Linked DNA regions of Homo sapiens: region 1 is linked to region 2. The links come from fine-mapping of genetic effects on gene expression. Tissue or cell type: monocytes after Pam3CSK4. Region 2 holds a variant in brackets; the other region holds the start of a gene. All regions are shown on one strand. Distances are from middle to middle. Region 1 holds the start of MBOAT1 (membrane bound glycerophospholipid O-acyltransferase 1). Region 2 overlaps MBOAT1 (membrane bound glycerophospholipid O-acyltransferase 1).

Region 1 (2,965 bases), 44 kb after region 2:
TTTTAATGGTTGTAGATAATTCCTGGACAGTTCAAATAACTTCACTGGGGCCCCTCTCCTCCCCCTAACCTGTCCTACTCAGAAGCTCCAGCCCCAGGCATATGAGCCAACCGAACCCTGGGAAAACCAAAGTGTCCTTGTGTGTCCCGCATCACACACGGTACAAAATAACTGTCACCCCTGAACAAGCCTCGCCTCAGAAGTCTAAAACCCAGGTCCTGCATTCAAAATCTATAGACTACCGTCTACAGATTCATCGCGCTTGTTTTTTAAGTAGGGTCATCTAAATTAAAAACAATAACGACTTGAGGACACTGATGAAAGAAACACTGGTTTCATGTATCAGACTACTTCAGAACTTGATTACAGGAAACGAGGCAATCCCAAACTTAAAGAAAAAAAAGTTCAGTAGAACTTGCCGCGCAGGCTGTACCAATATTTTTTCACACTTACAAGGAGAAAAACACTAACACCAACTCAAGAAGGGAAAACACACACACACACACACACACACACACACACACAAAAACCAACTGTCTAGTGTGTGGCTGTAAAATACGCCATGGAGGCGGAGGGACGGTGGCTAACACTTTCGCCCGCCCCGTGCACGCGATCGCTGGGGAGCTGGGGTCGCTGCGCTCCCGGCCTGCAGTTACCTGGTCCAGCGGGATGCCCAGGAGCTCGCTGAGCGGGTGCAGGTAGGTGGAGCCCGTGGTGCGGTAGGAAAGGCTGGACGGCTGCGGCTCTGCTGCCATCCTGCATCTTCGGGAGGTGGCTGCCCCTGTCCCAGCCCGCAACACCCCCTGCTCGGCGTCCTCCCGCCCGGGTGCTCTTGGGTGGTTGCCCCGAGAGGCGCACGGCCGCCTGGTTCGCGGGGGAGCGAACGGGAGGCCGGGGAATGCGAACCGGCGCAAACTCTCGAGGCGCAAACTCTCGAGGCGCAAACTTGGCTTTGGCGCTGGCGCTGCAGCCACGGGCGCCGTAGGAGGGCCGGGCCCAAGGCGCCCCGCTTCCCGCTCCCTTCCTCTCCGCGCCCATTGGCCCGGCCGCTCGGGACGGCCCCGAGAGGAGGGAAGGAGGGAGGAAAAGTGGGGACTCCGAGCCCGGCCCCCAAGCGCCGCCCGGCCCGCCCAGCCTGGCCTGCACCGAGGCCGACCGGGAGAGGGAAAGCGACGCCAGCGGGCGCCGCCGCCTGGCCCTGCAGCTGGAGGCGGGACGCGCCTTTCCTCCTCCCGGGCTGACCGTCCTAGCCCCCCGCCAGACAAAACGACCTCACCCAGCGGGCGCCTTCCACTAGAGAGCACCACCCACCCCGCCCCACCCTGTTTTGGTTTCGCCGCCGCAGTCGAAGCGGCTGAGTGGCTGCGTTTCCCTTTCAAGCCGTAGAGGGTTCCTCTGCCGGTGGCTGGAAGCTGGAGCGCCGCAGCCACCAGACTCCCTACTTCCTTTACCCTCCTCTGCGCTAGGCATAGTTTCCTACACCCTGATCTGACATGTTCGGTGTCACACAAGCAAATACAGGGGACTGCTAGCTTCGGGTCACTTCCGTCTCTGTGGAGTGAGAGTTATTTCACCTCTGTAAGAAACGGTGTTTACTGTCATACTATGTGCATTCTGATAAGTCATTTGCATGCCACGGGTCCTCAAAAAGGGTGCCTTGCTCCTTAACTTGTCTGCCCCCGAACACCCACACATCAATGTTACTTGGAAAACTTTTCCAAGTTATTGCTAGGTTCTGAGAAACATAAAAATCTTGAAGATCCTTTTCAGGAATCGCTAGCTGATGAAAAAGGGTTTCAGGAAGGTAATATTCTGGGCTGCTGGGTAGAAAACCAAAGAAAGTGAGCTCACGTGGCCCCCAGCCTCCGCTGGGTAAACCGGCATTCGATCAGACAGGCAATGACTTTCGGGGCCGACTTTATCAATGTGGCCTCCAGCTTCAAATTAAACCGAAGGCCTGTCAGGCACTGGCAACAACTTACTCTCCAAGACTCAGGCCTCACTCTTGCCTTCTTCAGGAGTTTTATCACCATCAAACTGCACTGAGCATTAAATTGCCAGGCCAGAGTTTCTCAACCTATGTCCCCTGTGGAGGAGGAAAAAAAAAAGTCTGTACCACCACTCCCACAAGCTAACCGAATGGAGATGTCACCACCAGATGATAATCTCTACCACTCACAAGCAAACCCACACTACAGACAGACAGACACATGCACACACGCACACAGGCATATACTTGAGGATCACTAGGCTAGATAGGTTCATTTAATATCATAGAGTCCTGGAAAATGACCAGCATTGGAGCAACATTCATCTTATCTGGAGCTAGATGACAGCTGAAGTGAGGTATATGAGAGCAGACGGAGCTTTGTTTAAAAGGAAAAAAAAATCAACACTCAGATATGAGTTGCTGGAAAACAGAAGTAGGTCAGTTTGGGAAGTATTTCTGGAGCAAGTGCCTCAGACCCTTTATAATTTTCACAAAGCTATGCCTTTTAGACTTCAAAGAATAGTCCTCACATAGGCCATATATATATATGTGTGTGTGTGTGCGTGTGTATATATATTTATTATAAATATATTAATTTATATAATCATATATAAATATATTTATATATGTAAAGTTTTATATGTACATATATTAGCCTTACACAGGTTTATATATACATATATTACACAGTTTTTATATATATATATAACACAGGTTTGATATATACATATGTATATATGTATATGTAAAATATATACATGTATTAGCCTTACACAGGTTTTTTTCTCCCTAACAAAACACAGTTCATAACCTAGTCTAAATTTTTCTTTTAAAAATGGCCGGGTGCGGTGGCTTATGCCTGTAATCCCAGCATTTTGGGAGGCCGAGGCGGGCAGATCACCTGAGGTCAGGAGTTCGAGACCAGCCTGGCCAACATGGTGAAACCCCATCTCTACCAAAAAACAAAAATTAGCC
Region 2 (2,500 bases):
TCTCCAAAAGTTAAAGCAATGTTTTACTTCCCCCAGTAACATATAAGGGTATGCTCTCCTCACCCTTGCCAGCATAGGGGGCTGTTAATCTGTTAAATCTTTTCAGTGAGATTGTGGAGAACTGGTAGTGCATTAATTTTAATTTGCATTTTCCTTGCTGCTGGTTGAATGCCTTTTCATTTATTACTGGCTTTGGCCAATGAGTTGATTACCCACTGAACTAACGTTTCTAAGTGTTTGTTATAAAAAGGGTGGAGTTACCCAGATGAATTGGATGCACAGATTTTAATCAGTGGTAATTGAGAATTGGTATAAAGTTAAAAGAACAAGCTATGAAGTTAGACAGCTTGAGATAAAGTCCCACCCTAATCCCCTAGTTGTACAACCTTAGCCAAATTATTTGGCCTGTCTCCAATTCTTCTTCTATAAAATAGGAACCATGCAACTACTCTCACAGAATTAAGTGAGTTAATACATGTCAAGTGATTAGCACAGTGCCTGTCACCACACGAACTGTACGATGCATGCTAGATATTATTAGTATCTCTTTTGTTCCATCAAACTCTTTACCCAACACAGTGGCAAGGAGAAAAGCTCAAAGTCACTAATTAGAGTTGATGAATTTCCCTGCACATCCTCCAGTAGGAAGCACATAAGATGAAAAGACCTCCCCAGAAACCCTACCTAGCCTACCAGATGCATAATAAGTTCCAACATAGTCAAAGAACGGGTGTGTCCTAAATCTAAAAACTCAATCAGCCCATCTTCTTTCCCAAATGAGATTTGGGCTGTTAATTGTGCTTTAAAGAGGCCACATTCATTACTTATTTTTTAATCTCTTCATTATTTATTTTAAAATTCTTAGACATACACATTTGAAATAGTAAAAATTAATCAAAAAATATAAACCCAAGCAGCATGAATCAACTAAACCCTGATACTATAGTGTCATGTTTCTTATTAAAAAGTAACTCTGAAATAGCCAGGCATAATGGCACGTGCCTGTAGTCCCAGCTACTCAGGAGGCTGAGGCAGGAGAATGGCTTGAGCCTGGGAGATGGAGGTTGCAGTGAGCTGAGATCACCCCACTGCCCTCCAGCCTGGGCCACAGAGTCAGACTCAAGAAAGACAGAGACAGAGACAGAGACAGAGA[C/G]AGAGAGAGAGAGAGAGGAGAGGAGAGGAGAGGAGAGAAGAGGAGAGGAGAGGAGAGGGAAACAGAGAAAGAGAAAGAGAGAGAGAGAAAGAGAGAGAGGGAGAGAAAGAGAGAAGAGAAGAGAAGAGAAGAGAAGAGAAGAGAAGAGAAGAGAGGAGAGGAGAGGGAAAGAGAGAAAGAGAGAGAGAAGGAGAGAAAGAAGAAGAGAGGAGAGGAGGGGAGGAGAGAGAAGGGAAGGAAAAGGAAGGGAGGGAGGGAGGAAGGAAGGGAGGGAGGGGAGAGGAGGGGAAGGGAAGGGAAGGGAAAAGGGGGGAGGGGAGGGGAGGAAGGAAGAGGAGAGGACAGGAGAGGAGAGGGGAGTGTATTTGGTTGTTTCATATCACTAAGGAGGCAGTAAGTACAAATATCATCGGGGTTTTCCCAATGGGTAAAATAAAGAGGTTAAACAAGGTCATTTAAAGAGAGAGAAGAAAACGATGGAACAGATTCCCAAGTAACATCTTTTCCCAACAACCTATGTTGTCTCCTAAACAACAACAACAAAAACTGTCTTGAACAGTTATTTTCCTGGTGGACTTAGGTAAAAACTTTATCAGTCCAAAGTGATAAAAACGTTATCACCCCATAGCCATATACGCTCTCCTGTATACCAATAATACTACTTGCTATTTAAGATGCTGCCATGAGTAAGATCTCTGGGGACAATGGAAAATGCAGAACCAGGGCTATATTTTCTTATGCAACACCCCAGGGTGTGGCCAATTATCTCAGAGTGGGTTGTGAAGTTCTCAAAAGTCTCAAAACAAAATTAATTTTAATTTGGTTTAATTTGAAAATAAAACACAATGCCATTTAGCTTTTCCAAAACAGAGATCTTATGGGGCAGGCTGGGATACAGCACAATTGTCACAACTCCAAGAGTGCAGGGACCCAAAGTTTGGTGACCATTGTGCAATGTGGGACTGACGAAATAGGAATATCTGTGATTCTGCCTGGTCCCTAGGAACTGAACTATTTTGAGCTTCTATTATGTAATCACCTTCTCCAAAATATGTGTGTATATTAAAAAGGAAACTCTGATGTGGACCAAGAGTCAAAGTAACTACAATTCTCCGTTAAAAAAAAAAAGAAAAGTAAAGAAAAAGAAAAAACCTTATCCCACCCAACAGCAAACTAGACAACAGTTTTCAAAACCGGGAAACAAGTTACCAATTATAGGTTTTTAAAAACTTAATAATAAACACGTTTTCCTGTGGTGCCTATTAATTCTCCTATCCTCCCATCTCTTGATAATTATAGGAGGAAAGAAGGGGGAGGGATTTGTATCTTTAAAATTTAACCCCACAG

What was found. PIP is the estimated chance that this variant, and not a neighbour inherited with it, causes the effect.
Region 1: MBOAT1 starts here. The variant in region 2 is fine-mapped to the expression of MBOAT1 in monocytes after Pam3CSK4 (Quach 2016, PIP 0.95).

The regions. Positions count from the first base shown.
Region 1 is chr6:20,211,480-20,214,444 of GRCh38, forward strand. It overlaps MBOAT1 (membrane bound glycerophospholipid O-acyltransferase 1), which reads right to left and starts at 990. Exons shown (of 13, transcript NM_001080480.3): 1 at 657-990. The coding sequence starts at 755. RefSeq lists a silencer at 796-1,335 and an enhancer at 1,518-2,018.
Region 2 is chr6:20,167,338-20,169,837 of GRCh38, forward strand. The region is part of intron 1 of MBOAT1 (membrane bound glycerophospholipid O-acyltransferase 1); the gene reads right to left. Among named protein-coding and RNA genes, the nearest start is that of MBOAT1, 44 kb to the right of the region's middle. The variant C/G (reference allele first, on the strand shown) is at 1,154.